Homo sapiens: one gene and its partners. The protein of the gene in region 2 interacts with the protein of the main gene of each other region in a pairwise test. Each region holds a gene or a part of one and is shown on either strand. Other genes may lie near its edges.

What was found.
Region 1: the proteins of EPN2 (region 2) and PLEKHB2 interact in binary tests that used the Homo sapiens proteins (3 or more experiments, as listed by UniProt).
Region 3: the proteins of EPN2 (region 2) and TRIM26 interact in binary tests that used the Homo sapiens proteins (3 or more experiments, as listed by UniProt).

The regions. Positions count from the first base shown.
Region 1 is NC_000002.12:131,108,332-131,115,365, forward strand, and holds part of PLEKHB2 (pleckstrin homology domain-containing family B member 2), read left to right. Parts: intron 1-7,034. UniProt on the Homo sapiens protein: Involved in retrograde transport of recycling endosomes.
Region 2 is NC_000017.11:19,310,357-19,317,390, reverse strand, and holds part of EPN2 (epsin-2), read right to left. Parts: intron 5,340-7,034; coding exon 5,247-5,339; intron 4,287-5,246; coding exon 4,112-4,286; intron 1-4,111. UniProt on the Homo sapiens protein: Plays a role in the formation of clathrin-coated invaginations and endocytosis.
Region 3 is NC_000006.12:30,196,377-30,203,410, forward strand, and holds part of TRIM26 (tripartite motif-containing protein 26), read right to left. Parts: intron 4,763-7,034; 5' UTR 4,659-4,762; intron 2,889-4,658; 5' UTR 2,728-2,888; coding exon 2,290-2,727; intron 2,149-2,289; coding exon 2,053-2,148; intron 371-2,052; coding exon 140-370; intron 1-139.

The DNA.
Region 1 (7,034 bases), on a different chromosome or scaffold from region 2:
TGTTTTATTCTCTAGAGACCAACAGCTAGGGCTTAGTGTTTATCTGATGAGTTTTAGTTTATGCATTCAGTTTTGCTCCAGGATATAAATAGTGAAATGTTGAATTAAGTTATGGAGTGGTGTGAAATTCAGCATGCTAAGGCAATCAAACAGAAGTCTTCTGAGCCATTTGAGAAGCAGCTTGATGTCCTTGTTCTTAGAACAGGGCTGTCCAATCTTTAGACTTTCTTGGGCCACATTGGAAGAAGGCCATACATAAAATACACTAACCCTAATGATAGCTGATGCACTAAAAAATAAAATTGCAAAAAAATCTCATAACGTTTTAAGAAAGTTTACAAATTTGTGTTGGGCTGCATTCAAAGCTGACCTGGGCTGGGGCCATGAGTTGGACAAGCTTGTTCTAGAATATTTTCGGCAAATTTTGGTAAGGGGGAAAATAAGTAATAGTAATAATAGTAGTAAATAGTAATAATTGCTGTCAAAGCAGCTACCATTTATCGAGTTCTAGTAACTGTGAGGCACCATGCCAACTACTTACATATTATTTCACCCAATTTTCCGAACATCCTGTCAAGTAGGTGGTGGGAATTTTCGTTTTATAGATCAGGCTTGGAAACGTGACTTGTCCGATTGAGTCAGGATCTGAACATAGGTCTTTTAACTCTAAAGCTTATACCCAAACACTGGGTTCTGTGAAATTTCAAAAGCATATGATAGGCTGACTGCAGTGGCTCATACCTGTAATCCCAGAACTTTGGGAGGCTGAGATGGAAGAATCCCTTGAGCCCAGGAGTTCGAGACCAGCTTGGGCAACATAGTGAAACCTCGTCTCTACAAAAACAAAACAAAATGTGATCAAAATCATACTTCATGATTTTTGGTTTCTAAAGATACTCTCTAAATTTCTCTCCCCAATTTAAAAACGAAAGCAGAGCACTGTTGGAAGGTTCAAATAGGTAGATTAATTTAGGTTGGTTTTTTTGTTTTGGTATAGTTGAAGATAATTCAGGTTATTGTTTACATGTTTACATTTATCAAAATAATACATGTACATAGATTGAAAGACCAAATAGGCTGAGCGTGGTGGCTCAAGCTTTTGGAGGCCAGCACTTTTGGAGGCTGAGGCGGGTGGATCCCCTGAGGTCAGGAGTTTGAGACCAGCCTGACCAACGTGGTAAAATCCCGTCTGTACTAAAAGTACAAAAATCAGCTGTGCGTGGTGGTGGGCGCCTGTAATCCCAGCTACTTGGGAGGCTGAGGCAGGAGAATCGCTTGAACCTGGAAGGCGATGGGTGCAGTGAGCCAAGATCGCGCCACTATACTCCAGCCTGGGCAACAAGAGCGAAACTCTGTCTCAAAACAAACAAACAAAAAAAACAACCAAATAGTGCTTTAAACCTTAGAATAAAAAAAAATATATCAATCTCTTGTCCACCCCCTTTTTAAACTATAGACAACTATTTTCACCTTTTTTTGGCACTTTTTAAAATAGTATTTTGGCTGGGTGTGGTGGCTCACACCTGTAATTCCAGCACTTTGGGATGCCAAGGCAAGTGGATCATGAGGTCAGGAGATCGAGACCATCCTGGCTGACACGGTGAAACCCTGTCTCTACTAAAAATACAAAAAAATTACCTGGGTGTGGTGGCGGTTGCCTGTAGTCCCAGCTATTCGGGAGGCTGAGGCAGGAGAATGGCATGAACCTGGGAGGTGGAGGTTGCAGAGAGCTGAGATCGCGCCACTGCCCTCCAGCCTGGGTGACAGAGTGAGACTCCGTCTCAAAAAAAAAAAATAGTATTTTATCTTTGTGGATATGGTAAAATTGCTATTGATTTACATGTAATCTTTTGACTTTTGATCATAGAAGACTTTTGCTGCCTTGTAAAACTCTTCAATCCACCAGTGAGTCAAAAACTTGTAGGAAATTTGTCAGTTACTTTTTTTCCTCCCCTGTAGTACTCGGTCCTGCTCCAGTCTGGACTGTTTTTTTTTTTTTTTTTCCTCCCCAGTCCTTCTGCACAGCTGCCTTTCTGGGAATTTCCTCCCCTGCCAGTTGAAGACCGAATCCTACTCTGTCGCCCAGGCTGGAGTGCAGTGACATGATCATTCATGGCTTACTGTGCTTCTACCTTCTGGGCTCAAGCGATCTTCCTACCTCAGTCTCCCGAGTAGGTGGGACTACAGGCGTGCACCACTATGTGCAGCTAACTTCTTATTTTTTTGTTGAGAATGTCTCACTGTGTTGCTGGGTTGGTCTCAAACTCCTGGGCTGAAGCGATTCTCCCACCTTGGCTTCCCAAAGTGTTGGGATTATGCTCAAGAGCCACCATGCCTGGCCTTGATTAATGATTTGACTGGGTGTGGAATTCTGGCTTGGAAATAATTTTCCGTTAGCATTTTGAAGGTATTGCTCTAGATGTCCTGTGTCTTGCTGATTGTTGATCCTTTATATATGCTTTTTTCTTTGGGAAGTTTTTAGGTTCTCTTCTTTGTCCTTGATGTTATGAAATTTCAGTCATCCTACCTATGGAGAATCTTTTAAAATTCATCATGCTGGACAGTCATTGGATCTTTTGAATCTAGAAATGTGTTATCCTGTTGCAGGAAATGGTTTTATAGTATTATTTCTCTGCTCTTTTCTCTGTGGTTTATTTATGAAATTCTCCTATAAGCAGAATTTTTTTTTTTGAGACGGAGTCTCGCTGTGATGCCCAGGCTGGAATGCAGTGGTGGGATCTCAGCTCACTGCAACCTCCGTCTCCCGGGTTCAAGTGATTCTCCTGCCTCAGCCTGCTCAGTAGCTGGGACTACAAGTGCGTGCCACCATGCCTGGCTAATTTTTGTATTTTTAGTAGAGATGGGGTTTCACCATACTGGCCAGGCTCGTCTTGAACTCCTGACCCCAAGTGATCTACCCACCTCAGCCTCCCAAAGTGCTGTGATTAACAGGTATGAGCCACTGTGCCCAGCCAGCAGAATATTTTATATTCCAGGCTCATCCTCTAATTTTTTTCCATCTCTTGGTCTTTTTTTTTTTTTTTTTTAGCTCTTCATTTCAGAGAGATTTCTTCCATCTTGATCTTTCCAACTCTTGTATTGAATTTTTAATTTTGGTTATTATTTTTAATTGAGAGCTCTGAATATTTCTTTTTATTCTTGTTTTTTTTTTTTTTGAGATGGAGTCTCACTCCAGTCACCCAGGCTGGAGTGCAGTGGCACTATCTCGGCTCACTGCAAGCTCCGCCTCCCGGGTTCACGCCATTCTCCTGCCTCAGCCTCCTGAGTAGCTGGGACTACAGGAGCCTGCCACCACGCCCAACTAATTTTTGTATTTTTAGTAGAGACGGGGTTTCACCATGTTGGCCAGGCTGGTCTCGAACTCCTGACCTCAAGTGATCTACTCTCCTCGGCCTCCTAAAGTGTTGGGATTATAGGCGTGAGCCACTGTGGCCAGCTGTAAAGTAATATTTTTAAAGTTTTCTTTTGTACCCAGCATTGTCTCTGATTCTTGAGGTTTTTTTCTTGAAAATTTTATTTTCTTTAATCTCTATCTTTTATGGTCTAGATTTTTCTCCAGTGTCTGATTGTGGTACTGTGAAATGTTTATTTTGTCTTTGACCTCATTTCCTGCCTTACAACTCCTATTTAATACAATCCTTAAAAATCTCCAAAATGATGTCTTTTTGTATGCTAATGATTGATTGATGGCCTGCAGACTCCCTTCAGGATGGGAGCTGGTCATCTGAAACACCTATGCGACTTTAGAGGGTTGGAACTTTCATGTCTGCCCCCCAACCTTCCAGGAAGGAGAGAGGGGTTCAAGGTGATGTTGATCACCAGTGGCTGTTGGTTTAATCAATCATGCTAATGTAATGAGGCCTCCATAAAAACCCAAAAGGATTGGGTTTGGGGAGCCTCCAGAATAGCCGAACACCTGGAGGTTCCTGGAGGGAGGGTGGTGTGCCTGGAGAGGCCTGAACACTAACACCTTGCCCTATACATCTCTTCATCTGTGTCCTTTGTAATACCCTTTATAATAAACTGGTAAATATAAGTCATTGTTTACCTGAATTTTGTGAGCTGCTCTAGCAAATTAATCAAACACAGGGAGATGGGGGAATTCTAATAGACCTAAAGAAAGAAACTAAAGCAAAAATTACTATAAATAGAGAGTTTATTTAGGCCAGATTTGAGGACAGCAACCTGGGAAGCATAGATTCAAGTTGCTCTGAATATATGCTTTGAGTAGCAACAGTTAGAAGTGGGATTTTAAAGGGCAAAAATAGGGGCAGTTTCTAAGTTGAACATAAACTATTGGTTGGCTGTATATTGTTCTTTGTACCACACATTCCAGGAACATGAAGAAAATGATTGAGGGTCACATTGTGTAACTTGTAGTAACAGTCTTGGTAATTTATCAGCTTGTCTGGAAACTACAGGAAAGGGAAGATTAAAAAAACCCCAAGTCCCTTTAAACAGTTAACCCTGAGCGTGGCTGGGGCTGTGGTAACTAAAGACCCATTTTCTAAATTTTGCCGGCTTTATGTTCTTCAGATTGCTCTGAGCTACTTTTCTTTCTCACTGACTTAAAGCTAGTTGATCACATGTTCCAGAGGCCCTGACTTGTGGCTGGTGTCTGAAGGGTGGGCAGTCTTGTGGGACTGAGCCCTCAACCTGTGGGATCTGATGCTATCTCCAGGTAGATAGTGTGACAGTTGAATTGCAGGACACCTAGTTGGTGTTCGCTGAAGAATTTTTTTTTTTTTTTGAGACCGGGTCTCACTCCTGCCCAGGTTGGAATGTAGTGGTGTGATCACGGCTCACTGCAACCTCCCCATCCCAGGCTCAAGTGGTCCTCTTACCTCAGCCCCCCAGTAGCTGGGACTACAGGTGTGTGCCACCATGCCCCGCTGATTTTTGTATGGATGAGGTTTCACCATGTTGCCTAGGCTAGTCTCAAACTCCTGAGCTCAAGTGGTCCCCTGACCTTCTCCTCCTAAAATGTTGGGATTACAGATGCGCAACACTGTGCATGGGCCTGCTGCATAATTGATTTCTTGCTTGGTATGTGGGGAGAAACCCTCACACATTTGGTCACAGAAGTCTTCTATGTTGATTGTTGTGACGTGAGAGCAGAGGAAAAACAGTATTTTTTTCTACTCAGACTGATGATACTTGCTCTGTATTCCTATTTAAGAGAGGTACTGAAAAGCTGATTGGAAGTCTGTGTGTTTGCTTCAAGTCTGTCTCTTGGTGAGCTTCTCTGGAGGGTGTTAGGCAAAGTTTGGCTTTTTCATTACAGAACACCCAGTTGTCAGTATCAGTGAGCCTTTCCTCTTGGGACTATGCCTTTGCTCTGAGCTAGAGTCTGAGAAGTAAGGAAGAAGATGGAGAATTTGACTTTCACGGACTATATTCTTCTAAGTGTGGCCTGCGACTTTAAGCTGTGTGTAGTGTGGCCACGCCCAGTCTCCAGAGGCATCATCTTCAGGATCAGGGAGGGTCCCTGTCTGCTTGGGTAGGGTGCCTAGTGACCCCTTTGAAGACTTTCCATTAATTCTTCTGATTTCTCCCCACCTCTAGAATTCTCTCTTACCCCCAATTTCTGAGTCTGTTTTTATGTGGCAGGAGTTGGCTTGCTGTGTTTTGGCTTCTGTTAGCACATAACAAAGTAGAGGTGGCCATATTTTATGTTAGTTGACACTTGTCTGTTTGTCTTAGAACTTTCAAAATGTTGTGTCTCGTCTGCTTTTGTCTGCTGCTGTTCTCTGTGGATTTATGCCTTGTTTTCTCCTTAACTCTCATTTTAGTTGCATTTCAGGAGGGAGTGGCCCAGGCTGGAGTGCAGTGGCGTGATCTCAGCTCACTGCAAGCTCCGCCTCCTGGGTTCGCACCATTCTCCTGCCTCAGCCTCCCGAGTAGCTGGGACTACAGGCGCCCGCCCCCACGCCCGGCTAATTTTTGTATTTTTAGTAGAGACGGGGTTTCATCGTGTTAGCCAGGATGGTCTCCATCTCCTGACCTCGTGATCCACCCTCCTCAGCCTCCCAAAGTGCTGGGATTACAGGCGTGAGCCATGGCCCATCCCTGCCCTGGAGACATTTTGCCCATTGTCTTGGTGATTAACATTGGACTTCTTGTTACTTATGCAAATTTCTGCAGCAGGCTTGAATTTCTCCCCAGAAAATGGGTTTTTCTTTTCTGTTGCATCATCAGTTGGCAAATTTTCCAAACTTTTATGCTCTGCTTCTTCTTGAAGGCTTTGCTGCTTAGAAATTTCTTTTACTAGATACCCTAAATCATCTCTCTCAAGTTCAAACTTCCACAGATCTCTAGGACAGGGACAAAATACCACCAGTCTCTTTACATAACAATAGTGACCTTTACTCCAGTTCCCAACTAGTTCCTCATCTCCATCTGAGACCAGTGCAGCCTGGACCTTATTGTCCATATCACTATCAGCATTTTGGTCAAAGCCACTCAGCAAGTCTCTAGGAAGTTCCAAACTTTCCCACATCTTTCTGTCTTCTTCTGAGCCCTCCAAACTGTTCCAACCTCTGCCTTTTACCTGTTTCCAAAGTTGCTTCCACATTTTCAGTTATCTTTTCAGTAGCATTCCGCTGTACTGGTACCAGTTTACTGTATTAGTCTGTTCTCACGCTGCTAATAAAGATATACCCAAGACTGGGTGATTTATAAAGGAAGGAGGTTTAGTTGACTCACAGTTCCACATGGCTGGGGAGTTCTCACAATCATGGTGGAAGGCAAATGAGGAACAAAGTCATGTCTTACATGGTGGCAGGCAAGAGAACTTGTGCGGGGAACTCCCATTTATAAAACTGTCAGATCTTGTGAGACTTATTCACTACCATGAGAACAGTATGGGGGAAACTGTCCCCATGATTCAGTTATCTCCACCTGGCCTCACTGTTGACATGTGGGGATTATTACAATTCAAGGTGAGATTTGGGTAGGAATAAAGCCAAACCATTATCAGAAAGTATGTCTTTTTTTTTTTTTTTTTTTTTTTT
Region 2 (7,034 bases):
CAGAGAGAGGGCTCCAGCCAGCCAAGGTCTTCTGAATCAGCAGGCTATAAGCCCTCCTCAGACCAGGTGGCTGCTTTGTGTGTCTGGAACAGAGGAGGAAGCGCCCCACTGACCTGGCAGGCTCCAATCTCCCTCCTTTCAACCCTGAGCATTTCCTCCCAAGGCCACTTGGCCAAGTTGCTCCTAGTGCTGCTTGGAAAAAACTGGTAATGATGGGGCTCACTACAAATGGTGGCTTTCAAAACAGTGTTTCTTTCATCCAGAGGGCACAGCTAACACTGTTAGGGGAAGGGACTCCAATCTTTCTAATTTATGAATGAGTCTCAGGATGGAGGGGTGACCCTGAAAATTTGCACTATTGGATTTAACTAGATGCTAAACAATAAATCCAATACCACACTCTTGCTCTGAGGCTACGCTGATGGAATGTGGAAGCAGAGGGTGTGCTAACACGCTTCAGTGAATGCAGGAGCTAGCAGAGGGCCATTCTCCTGCAGAGCTGGTCAACACCACCACTGAGAAAAGAATCTCAGAATTAAAAGAAATCACTGTGATTTTAATGTATTTTTCTATTGAAAGCAGAGTGCCAGAACTGCAAAAACACCCCTATGAACATCACTAGGCTGCTTAGTAAATGATGGTACAGCGTGGTATTGTTTAGAATTTCTAATGATGCCTAGAAATGCTCATGACACTACAAATTGAAATATACACATACATACACACGTAATTATATATACAATATAGCTTCAACTGAGTAAAAACATAATGCCCAGAAAAAAGACAGGAAGCAGACAAGCTAACATTTTAACAGTGGCTATCTCTCCATATTGGAATTTGTGGTGACTTTTCCAGGACATGCCAGGGCCACAGAAGGGCCTTGCAGCAGTCCAGGATGGTGTGACAACTACAGGACATGGTGCCATAAGCACTGAGCCTGTCCCAAACCTATTAACAATGTCTATGGGCTTTGGTGGCCTATCTCCTCCCCAAGTCACTGGTAATAATGCCAAGTGCATCAGAACCAAGAAGGTCCTAGGCTGGGCAAGTGGCAAGAGATGGCCAACTGGCAGTCAACAAGCCACATGTGCCCATCCTCAGATAGCTTTTAATTAGCTCAAACCATATTCTTAATTTTTAAAATTCACAGCCAACATTTAAACACTAGATTTCAAAAATCCAGGTTTCTATCTTCTCTTTAAAAAACTGGATTCATAATAGCCAAAATGTGAAAACAGCCCAAATATCCATCAATTGCTGAATGGTTAAACGAAGTGTTGTATATCCATGCAATGGAATATTATTCATCCACAGAAAGTCATGAAGGACTGACACACGCTATAACATTGATGAACCTTGAAAACATGATGCTAAACAAAATAAGCCAGGCACAAAAGTCCACACAGTGCATGACTCCGTTTCTATGAAATGTCCAGAGAGGCAAATCCCTGGAGATAGAAAGCACATACTGGTTGCCAGGGCCTGGGTATGCGGTTTCTTTCTGGGGTGATGGAAATGTTCTGGAATTAGATATCTGATGGTGGCTGCACAACATTGTGAATGTGCTGAAAACCAGTGAAGTGTCCGCTTTAAAATGGTTGAAATGGGCCAGGAGCGGTGCCTCATGCCTGTAATCCCAACACTTTGGGAGGCCGAGGCAAGCGGATCACTTAAGGTCAGGAGTTTGAGACCAGCCCAGCCAACATGGTGAAACCCCGTCTCTACTAAAAATAAAAAACTAGTTGGTGTGGTGGCACAAGCCTGTAATCCCAGCTACTCAGGAGGATGAAGCAGGAGAATTGCTTGAACCTGGGAGGCGAAGGTTGCAATGAGCTAAGATGGTGCCACTGCACTCCAGCCTGGGCAATAGTGAGACTGTCTCAAAAAAAAGAAAAAAAAAAGTTGAAATGGTGAATTTTATCTCAAGTTCTTAAAATTTGGGAGGGCAGATTCACATGGGCAGCATTCCTAGGTGAAGCAGCAGCCCATCAAGCCCACCAAGTTGCCCCCATTCATCAGGGGAGACTCCTCCGCTCACACCCCCTGGACTCCTGTACCGAGTCTCACCCCAGGGTGCTCTCAACATGGTATTGCTATTACGCTATGTTCCTAGAGGGTCAGGTCAGGTCCTTGGCTCGGCCCAGAACACTGGGTCCAGGGCACAGCCCTGTTCACCAGCCAAAGGAGGGGCTGGGCATAACTTGGTCATTTAAAGATATTTTGAGATTTTTGTCTCTCCTGACTGGGAAAAACTTACCCCTGGTAAACAAGCCAAACAATATAAAAAGGTAAAGTGTTAAAACTAAGTCTCCTTCCCACCACTCTGATCCCCAATTCCCTCCCCAGAATTTAACTCTATTAAACCCACCTGGCTCCTGGTGTGACCACTTTCTTTACAGGGCACTAAGACAACTATCCGACAGTTTAATGAACAGTCTTTCCTGAAAACATCCTAACCATAACTTATGGTGGCCATCACTTTACAGACTAATCATTCTTCAGATTTAAAAATAAAGCCAAAGCCACTGTCTAAAAGGGTCTGCCAGCCCTGGGGCACCACAGTCCCCATGTGTGGTGAGTAAAACCATACCACAGGCTCCCTGGGGGTACCACACACAAGTGACAAACCTTGTGAACCAACCTCTTGAGCAGCCCTGGAACTGGCCTTCAGTCAATGAAAGCTGTGGGCAATTTTGCCTGGGGCTTTTCCCAAGGCCCAGAGGGCTCCTGCCAAAGGGGGTATAAGGCCCTGCCTGGGTTACAGAGGCCACCATCAAGCTATTGGAACTCACCAGATGCTAAAGGGCATCGGGGGCTGACAGTGTCTTCTGGACCAAGTCCAAGCACTTGGTAAGGCTGAGTGCAGGCCCTGAGTGATCTGGGCCCTTCTCCCCTGCTTCCCAGTTCACACCAGCTGGTTGCATCTGCACCCACTCCACCACTCCGTACCCCTCTGCTTCTCACACGCTGAGTCTTCTGCAGGGAACTCCCTGCCTCTTGGTGCCTGGACACCTTCTTTTCCCTGGGGACTCAACGGAAGTGGCCTTCCTCCAAAATGCTTACCTCACACTCCTGGACTCCTGTACTGAGTCTCATCTCATCCCAGGATGCTCTCAAATAACCTCCATCGAGTCCTGGACTACACAGTACTGCTATTACGCTGTGTTCCTGCCCTGCCCGCTCCTGAGCAGGGCCTTGACAACAGACAACAGGGACAATAATCACCTGTTGTCTCAGGGGTCATGCACAGCAGAACACAGCCTGTCACTTGGTACATTTTAGCAAACATCTAGGGAACCGAGTTAAACACAAGAGACGGTTCTGAGAGAAACAGAGACTCCAGGAGATACAGGCAAGATGCCACAAGATATACAAAGTTCCCAAACAGCCCACAGGTCAGCCACGCCCAGTAGGGTTTAGCACACCAGGAGGGGCCTCCCAGGGCACCAGGCCAGGAAGCCTTCATAAAGCCTGCTGGGCCATGCTCCTGCCCAGTGATTAAGAAACTCGTGGGCCCAAGATCATCACCCAAATCAAACCAGTTGTGTCATGCTCACATTTTGAACTTCCCACCACAATTCCTCTTACATCTCACATTAAGCAAAACTTTAAAATATTCATTTAGCCTATTAAACGGATTTTCTATTGCTTTAAGTAACAAGCAGAATTATAGCAAATGTATCCCCTTTTCATCAGCAGTGGTGGTAAGCACATCATAATTTCCATCTAATTACAGCAGCTTGATTTGGATGTTCCATGCTGTGTATTTTGGTTCCTTCAGCTGGGACGCTGGGTGTAACGCTGAGGCTGCAAGAGTTGAAACATGTCCCAGAGAAGGCACAAGCCATTTCTGATGCAAATGGGAGGTTGAGGGGAGGTTGACTTTCCTTCTCCCAAAGCAGAAAACCACTCAAAACAAAGAGGGAACACCATGCCACCATCCTCAAGGAGGAGGGCAAGGGCCAGTTGGATATCACTGCTGAGGGCTGGAGGAGCCTGGACACCCACCACAATCGACCAGACCCAAGTGGGTGAGAGACAGCAAGAAGCACTGCCCTGCCCCTCACCCATCCAGCAGGCAAGCACGGGAGACCAGTAATGGGGTCTTTACCAAACGATGGCCAGGGGTCTGAAGTACTCGCAGGAGCCGCTGGCCCGCCCCAGGGGTTGGTCTGGTTAGTGGAGGCTGACGGGCCCCAGGGCTCTGCTTTCTGGGCCGCGGGGCCCGAGCTGGGGAGAGCATCCATTAAATCCAACAGCGTAGTCTGCTGTGGGAGAGAGCCATGCTTTTAAGACAAAGAGAAGGGGACAGGTTTTACTATGCTACAGTTACAGCAAATACTCATGAACTAGCCATAAATATCACCCACCTGTGCCTCTTCCTCCAGTGAAGCCCTCTAGGAGGGGCTGAGAAGAACTTGGAAACTGAGCCGTCCCATCTCCCTCCCCGTCCAGCCAGCTCTCCAGTCACAACAAGCTATTTACTGTTTGCTAAACCCCCTCACCAGACTTCAGAGACCTCAGGGCTCAACAGACTTTTCCAGGCTAACACTGGCTTCTGCCCAGGCTGTGGACCTCCTCCAGAACGCCATCCCTCCCACCTGCCAGCCACCATCCAGGGCCAGCCTGAGGGCCCTCCTCCTCGGGCACCTGCATGCTCCCCACTCTCAAGACCACCCCATGTGTCATCAGGGATCATCAACATCAACCAGTCAGGAGCCAGGGGCTCCACCGGCCTCAGTAGCACTGTAACAGAGGAGGCCAATGGAGCCCCGGGGCCTGTGGTGTAGAAGGGGTCTGGGTCTTGACTGGATGATGATGAGCTTGTCAAGAGCCCAGCCATGTCCTGGTCATCTCTACATCACAGCAGGAAGCCTGGCACAGGGCTGAAGAGGCAACCAGCACTTCTGGGGGCACACCCTGCTGCAGGAAAGCGTTCCGCAGCCCCTGGCATGTAGCTCACTTGACAGCTGCCGTAGCCACAGCGGCAGGAGGCAGGCACTATCATCACCTCCATTTTACAAACGAGCAGACTGAGGCACTGGGACATTAAGTGTCTCCTGGTTAGTTCAGGTGTGTTTTCAGTCGCTTGCTCACCTGGCTCTCGCTCACTACAGGCATGAAGGTTATTTGCTGAGGTTGGAGAACTCACTGTGCATCACGCCATCCAGGCAAGTTGGTGGGGGGATATTGAGGCAACAACTACAGGACAGGGTGAAACATCTACCCTCCCAGCAAGCTCTTACCTCTTTCTTTTTTGGAATTTTAACTGTGTCCCTTCGGCTTTCTTCCAGGGCCATCTGTAATCTGAGGTCATCACCCCGCCTGAGGCGTTCTTCCTGTAGAGGGACAATGCAAACTGGTAATTGTAATAACATCACTGTACAGAACAAAGCCACACTGGCCAGAAACAGGAAATGCACATTGTATGATGCAGTATTTCAAAGGAAGATTTCAAAACTACTTGTAAAACACAATTACTTTCAAATCCCAAATGTGTGTGTACCCAGAAGGCCCCTCCCTCATGGCGACTCCTGTGACTTGGACCCCTGTGGGGTCACACCAGGGAGACTATGGCTCAGGTACCACCAAACTGGGGAAAGGGAATGCTTAATCTAAAATATTTTTTTCTCAAAATGAAACTGGCTTTATAAATTCTACTTATAGAAGCAATGTGTGTCCTTATAAAACACAAATCTGACAACCCAAAAAGGAATTAGAAAGAAGATAAAAATCACGTATCATTCCACCTCCACTGTGTATGCTTCCGGAAAATGGCTGCATATTTCTATGATTCCTAACAGAAATGATTCACTATCTTTATTTAAGGCAAAGTCACCATATGCAAAAGACAGGGTTGTCCTAAGCTTTTATATAATATAATAATTAAATATAAATAATATATTCCTTGTATTTTTTCTTTTCTTGTTTTTAAGAGATAGGGTCTCATGGTATTACCCAGGCTGCTACACAGTAGCTATTCACAGGGACAATGCCACTACTGATCAGCACGGGAGTTTGAACTTGCTCCCTTATATTTTATTATAAATATTAACTAAAATGGGCTCAAACCGTCCGTCTGTCCCTATGTTTCTCAGTGGATGCTACCACGCACCTTCTTCCTGGGCTGCTGGCCATGAAGCCACATGCATCCACCTGGGCAGTTACTGGTGGCCTGTTTCCCACTGCAGGGACAGAGAGGCCACAACTGAGATTGCCCACTGTCACTGAGCTTTAGAATGTTGCCAGTTATAGACACACAAACAATGCCGGGATGAACTTGTCAGTACTCAAATCTAACTATCCCCAGTATTCCTCTCTGAACACCAACTTCTAATAGAGGAGAGGAATCCCTGTGCTGCCCCTGGTCCCATCTACCTTTTTTAACCAAAGGTCATTGGAGACAGCCCTGATAACTGCAACCAAAGGCTTGACAATTTGTAAGGCCACTCTAATTGCTCCTTTCCCTTCTCGCTGTTGTAAAGTAATGCATGCTTACTAAAGAAAAATGGGGGCCAGGCACGGTGGCCCAAGACTGTACTCTCAGCACTTTGGGAGGCCGAGGTGGGCAGATCACTTGAGGTCAGAAGTTTGAGACCAGCCCGACCAACATGGTGAAACCCTGTCTCTACTAAAAATACAAAAATTAGCCGGGCATGGTGGCACGCGCCTGAAATCCCAGCTACTCGGGACGCTGAGGCACGAGAATCACTTGAACCCAGGACGCGGAGGTCTCAGGGAGCCAAGATTGCACCACTGCACTCCAGCCTGGGTGACAGAGTGAGACTCTGATTCAAAAAAAAAAAAAAAAAAAAAAAAGAAAGAAGGAGAAAGAGAGAAAGAAAAGAAAAGAGAAAAGAAAAGAAAAATGGGAACTGAAAAAAACTAAAACTATACATACTTCCATCATCAAAACACAAGCACTCTCATTTCGGGAGCATTTTTTCCCAGCCTTTGTTTTTTGCAAATCTCTTGCTACAGGTCAAAGTGCTTGGCGGGGGCTGGGCTGGCTCCTGCCCCTCAGGCCTGCATCC
Region 3 (7,034 bases), on a different chromosome or scaffold from region 2:
GGCAGCAGTAAGGATTATCATCTCCATGTTTCAGATGACAAAACTGAGCCCCCAAGTCTTCTAAGGTCCTGCAAGTGAATGGCAGGGCTGGGACCCACCGTCCTGGTCCCTGGCGCCCTGCCCAGGGACGGCCTCTCACCTGCATGAGCTCTGCAGCTGGCTGCTGCGCCTTGCCCTCCAGTTCGGAGATGACCAGGGCCAGCCGGGCAAGCTCCCCGACGCCCCGGCTCTTGAACTTCTCCCTGCCCTCCGTGAGCTCCTGCTCCAGCTTCGCCAGCTGTTCCAGCAGGTGTTCCTCCCGCTCCCTCAGGAACTGATGACCCTGCTCAAACTCAGCCACAATGTACTGCCTCTGGTCCTGGAGCTTCTTCTGCAGGGGGCAGGAAGGGGAGAAGGGCTGACACCTCTGCTCAGGGTGGAGGGCCCAGTGCTGGAGGTGTGCAAGGCTGGCTCGTTCACCTCGCTACCCCCGTTCAGGAATTCTACAGGATCTGGAGTGGGAGGAGCTACAGAGGGTTCCTGGTCCACACTCCGCTTCTCAAAGAAGACTCCAGTAATGAATTAGTTCAGTTCACCCCACCACTATATGGTCAAAACCCTGTCTCCACCTGACTGGTCAGCCACAATCTGTTCTAGCTAAACCAGTACGCTCTGGGGCCCCTAGAGAAACTCTGTGGGTCTCACTCATGAGCCGACGCACTTTTCCCTCCTGGACAAAATCTGTCACCTCTTCCAGGAAGTTTTGCTTGATTAATGTCATCTAAGCCTGACCAGCCCTCTCTTCAGCACCCCACTGTTCAGTCTAAAATATCTATATGTACCCCACCCCTGCCATGTAAGACTGCATCCTGTTTCCTCAGCAAAATTGTGTGACGTCTGTGCTTAGGGACTATGTCCTTTCCTGCCTCCAAATCTCCTCCCCAGCTGGGGTTGGGGGAGTCCTCAGTGGCCCTGTTGACTGGTGCTGAGCTGGGGGCAGCCATGCACACTGAGGGCCTGGAGGGGTCCTTGGACTTGGCTGTCTCTAGCTTACTGTTTCCCTCTCCCTAGGCCTAATGACTCACCACTGGCCCTGACCCCACTACTCCTCCACTGCCCACTTCCTCAACATACACAGTTCCCCAGAAAATCAGAACCATTTGATCAGTTCCCCCCAACCCCATCTCTAATCAAGTACATAATGTGCTGCCTGTTTTCTAACTACAGTTGTCCCTTGGTATCAGTGGGTGATGGGTTCCAGGATCTCCCTCCCCAAGGATACCAAAATCCAAGGATGCTCAAGTTCTTATGTAAAATGGAATAATAGTTACATAAAATCTACTATATACTTTAAATTATCACTAGATTACTTATAATGCCTAATATAATGTAAATGCTATATAAATAGCTGTTACACTGAATTGTTTAGAGAATAATGACAAGAAAAAAAATCTGTACATGTTCAGTAGAGACGCTTTTTCTTTTTTCTGAATATTTCTGATCCATGGTTGGGTAAATTCGCCGCTACGGAACCCACAGATATGGAGGAGGTCCCACTGTACTGGCAACCATGATCCTGGGCCTGGACCTCACTACATACAGTGCCATCAGAATTGGCAGACCTGCCTTAGCTGTTTTCTAGCCCTTCCCTCTCAGTTCTTACCCTGGAGCCAGCTCCCTCCTTCTAAACCCTCTCCACTCTCAGGCAACCTTGTCTCTCTCTCTCTCTTTGAAAGGAAGAATGAAGCCACACCTTCTTCAGTCCCCTGGCAGAAGAGAACCAGCAGCTGGACATGGGCCCTGCCTTCAAGGTGACAGTCACAGAAAACGGAAGGGACTCTAGCTGACATCCAGGCAGCCCACTTGTCTCTCAGACAAGAAACAGGCCCAAGACTACACGGCTCAGAAAGACAGCACTTGGGCTAAAACCCAGGTCTGCTACTGCCAGGCTGACACCCATCCTCCCTGTGAGCAGCGCCTAGAAACACCTCCCAGCTGCCGCCTACTTGCCCAGGCTCACCCTGCCCTACACGGGCGCACCGCCTCAGGGCTTCCTGAAACAGCCTCACTTACCAGCGCGGCCAGGATATCAGCTTCTCCCTTTGCCTGGAAGCCCTGAATTTTGTCTCTGTCCCTCCTTAGGGTACTCAGGTGGTTCAGGATTTTTTCCTGTGGAAAAACAAGCAGTGGCAACAGGTGGATGCTCTGGGCTGGGGCAGGAAGGGAGACTCAGGCTGAGTCCTCTGAGGACTGCAAGGTGGAGCATCCAGAGAAGGTGGCAAGGCACCCTCGGGGGTGAAGAGGGCTTACCCTGTGGGGCTGGGCGGCCTTCTCCATGAGGACGGCCGTGTGGGGCCTGTGCTCCCGGGACTCCCGGCACATCACGCACAGCAGCTTCCCGTCGTCCTCACAGTAGTAGTGCAGCTTCTCTCGGTGTCGCTCGCACAACTTTGCATCCTGCTGCTCCCGGGTCACCTCTCCCGGCTGCCTGCCCTTGTCCACCTTCAGCCGCTCAATGTTCTCCACCAGGCTGGCCAGTTGCCACACGGGTCGGATGTTCTCCTTCTTAAAAGGCTTCTTGCAGAGTGGGCAGACGGGGCGGCTCCCTGAGATGGGGCGGACGTCTGTGGTGCAGCTGCGGCAGAAGACGTGGCCACAGTCAATGGTCACAGGGTCCCGCAGGTAATCAAGACAGATGGAGCAGGTCACCTCCTCTTCCAGGCTCCGTAGTGGGGCTGACGTGGCCATGGTATCCTTAGTTCAGAGAGGTCTCCGTTCACTGGTGAGGACTTCTTCTCCTTGGAGACGCGACATAGAGTCAGGAGCAAGCACAGTAAAGGGGCAAAGGTGGCAGCCTGCACAGGGCTGCCAGCTCCAGCACTCAGTCAATCGACAGACACCACCAGCTCCTACAAGGTTCACACAATGTCAACGAGAAGAGGACCTTATAGATCTAGTCCAACTTCCTCATTGTACAGATAAGGATATGGAAACCCAGAAAGATTAGCTTGGTAGAGTGAAGAGCAGGACAGCCACTAGCCTATACCTTGCTGTTGGGAGAGCCTCAACACCCTTTCCTTCTATCTGTTGGAAAATCGCTGTAATGCACCAACTGTAATAAAAAATCTCTCACTACCTGCTGGGAAACTCATAATGATACACATATAAATCTACAATGTCTACTGTGGACACAGTGCTCCTTCACTCAACTGTGCAAAGCACAAGACACACGAGCAGTCATGGGGGTCCTGACAGAGTCAAGAGACCGCCCGTTTTTTTTTTTTGGTTTTTTTTTTTTTGAGATGGAGTCTTACTCTGTCGCCCAGGCTGGAGTGCAGTGGCGTGATCTCAGCTCACTGCAACCTCCGCCTCCCAGGTTCACACCATTCTCCTGCCTCAGCCTCCCGAGTAGCTGGGACTACAGGCACCCACCACCACACCTGGCTAATTTTTTGTATTTTTAGTAGAGACGGGGTTTCACCGTGTTAGCCAGGATGGTCTTGATCTCCCGACCTCGTGATCCACCTGCCTCGGCCTCCCAAAGTGCTGGGATTACAGGCGTGAGCCACTGCACCTGGCCAAGAGACCCCTTTTGTTTGCTCCTCAAGGTTTCAGGTTTCAAGAACTAAGAGAGGGCAATGTGACATGGCTCACCCTGTAAATCCAACACTTTGGGTGGCTGAGGCAGGAGGATCACTTGAACCGAGGAGTTTGAAACCAGCCTCAGCAACATAGTGAGACCCTGTCTCAACTAAAAAAATTTAAAAATTTTTTAAAATACCCCAGTGTAGTAGCATGCATCTGTAGTCTCAGCTACTGAGGAGGCTGTGGCAGAAGGATTACTTGAATCTGGGAGGTGGAGGCTACAGTGAGCCATGATTGTACTACTACACTCCAGACTGGGCAACAGAATAAGAGACTGTCTCAAAACAAACAAAAAACCAGAAAACATTAAAAAACAAACAAACAAACAGCACTGAGGTTCTTTACCAAAACTCGAGAAGCATCAGGAAGCTTCAGGAGTCTGACTGTCAGCATTTCCCTTTGTGAGTATTTCCCTGGGCTGTTCTATAGTTTGGGTTTAATTTGCTTCCCCTAGAAGGCTGGACTCTAAACACAGCCCTCCAGAGGAGCACAGCTTAGCCTCAGTGGACTTGTTCTTGGCTGTAACTGCCTCGTCTAGATGGCAGGAATCCTCAGGTGGCTGTGGCTGCTATGTGCTGTGAGGCCTTGGCTTGTACAGGGAGCGGGGACACACAGAAAGGACTCTGCTTCTGTTTACCTTTGTAGTCCTGACCCAGTTCCAGGCTGAGGTTATGAGCCTCAGCACATCTAACCCAAGAGCAGCCTCCTGCCCCTGACTCTGTGTGACAATACAGAAGTCACTTAAGTACTGAGCCTCAGTGTATCCATCTGTAAAATGGGAAGAGTGATACTTACCTTTAAGGGTTTCTAAGCAGGTCATGTGAAAGAATTATGGGAAAAGTGCTAAGCACAAGCCTGGTACACAGACGGAAATCTAGGAGAGAACCCACAACCCCTGGTTTCCAAATCCAGTGAGTGTCCAAACCACAAACAAAGAGTTAAATTCAAAAGTGGCAGCAAAAGAGGAAGTGAGCAGAACCAGCCACAGTGACACACGTGCTACAGAGTTCAACAACATCGTCACAGGGCAGTACCTGGAGGACTTGCTCTCCTATAGATCCATGGAAGGCAACTACAGCAGCGCTGGGAAGACAACCAGCAGGGCACAGAGGTGACTGCGAGGCTGGAATGAAGCAACCTGAATTACAGGCAAATCAATACTATTAATGATTATGTATGGTGAAAGTCCATCACAACAGAGTTCAGTGGCCTCTGTCAGTAGTGACATTAATGGGACAGAAATAAAACCCCCAGTCTATAAGACCCAAGAGTAAACAAAACAGGGATATAACGTCCACTCATTGAGGGTCTAGTACAATAATACATAAAAAGTGTTTTATAACGTAAAAGGACTACATAAATATAAGAGATTCTTATAGTGCTGATAATAAATTCCAACTGGAAGCACTAATGGATCTAGGTATGTGTGACTTTAAGAGACATAATGAGGGGAAAATCAAGCACCTTCAAAGCTCAAATGAAGGATTCAAGGAATTTAACTGTCAAGTGAAAGTAATATCAAGTTCCTACATGTTAGTAATGCTGGTAGAAATGCTAGGAATTGGCCGGGCACGGTGGCTCACACCTGTAATCCCAACACTTTGGGAGGCCGAGGCAGGTGAATCACAATGTCAGGAGATTGAGACCATCCTGGCTAACACGGTGAAACCCCATCTCTACTAAAAATACAAAAATTATCCAGGTGTGGTAGCATGCACCTGTAGTCCCAGCTACTCAGGAGGCTGAGGCAGGAGAATCAATCACCTCAACCCGGGAGGCAGAGGTTGCAGTGAGCCGAGATCGTGCCATTGCACTCCAGCCTGGGTGACAGAGTGAGACTCCATCTCAAAAAAAAAAAAAGAAAGAAATGCTAGGAATTGCCTGGTCCAACTCCTTGGCTTTACTGTTGAGGAAATAAGCCTGGCTCAGCAGTTTTTCAGTTGTAACATACTGCAAGTGTTTGGAAAGAGGAAAAAGGAGTGGTACTGGGCGTGTCTGTGGGCTTTCAAGCCCTTTATCATGCCTCTTTGCCAAATGGCCTAGAAGTTTAAAAGCTGAGGTTTTTCTTTGTTGAAGGATAGCCTGTGTTATCTTTGGGTTGGGAACTTATTTTGCAATTTACTTGCAAAATAAGAACAATAAAAGGACTATGAAGAGCTCAGCTACAGCTCTTCTTCCATGCAAAACAGGACACCTCATCACCCAGGCTCCATGCTGGGGTTTGATGGTCTCTAAACCTCCTGAAACTGTCTAAAAATTATTGCATATGTACTAGATACCTAAAATTGTCTGGGGATTACAGAAGAATAACCTTCTGTAAGATTAATCAGCAAATAAGTAGAAGAGGGATAACAGAATTAGAAAATCATTTTGCGACTGCCATTATAATAGCACAAGGATCATCAATAGATGCTAAAACTATTAGGTGAAAAGTTTTGGGGGATGAGATAGTACCCATGGTGCCAAAGCACCAATGAATGGATTACTTCCTGACATACCTTCATAAGGAAGAGATCCAGTGGTTATCTTAACTAAGTGACCAAATCCAGCGTCATCAGCAGACGGGGCAAAGTGGCATGTGCTTTCTGGCATGGCACTATATGAATCACACAACATTACCTATGAAGTGTTTGTGCCAAAAATGTTTGACTTGAATGAATCTAGTCAAGACTTTAGATCTAACTTCCAGTTTATAAAAAATATAAAGGAAAGGAATACTCTGAAGTATGTTATAACTGAAAAAGTACCGATGGAGGAATTAAACCACACCATAAGGAAAGAACCAGATAAATCCAGAATGCTGGACATTGCACATGGCAACTGGCCTAGTCTTTTAAAAAGTCAATGTCATAAAAAAAAACCTTCGAAAGAACTGCTTTTGATTTTTACAGACTAAAGAGAAATAATAACCAAATGCAATACGTGAACCTTGATTGGATCCTGTAAAAAGAAAAAAAAGGTTATAAAAATAGTCTTGGAACTATTGTGGGAAATTTGTAAGTAGGCTGGGTGTTAGATCATATTAAAAAATTATTTCCTCTCTTTCTTTTTTTTTTTTTTTTTTTTGAGACAGGGTCTTACTCTGTCCCCCAGAGTGCAGTGGAACTATCTGGGCTCACTGCAACCTCGGCCTCCCTGGCTCAAGCAATCTTCTCATCTCAGGCTCCCGAGTTGCTGCAACAACAGGTGCATACTACCACACTTGGCTAATTTTTAAAGGTTTTTGTAGAGAAGAGTTGCCACTATATTGCCCAGGCTGGTCTCAAACTCCTAGGCTCAAGCCATCCTCCCACCTCAGCCTCCCAAAGTGCTGGGATTATAGGCATGAGCAACTGCACCATGTCTAAAATTATTTTCTTAATGGTATTTACTGAGGTTATGTATGAGAATGCCTATACTTCTTATTTATT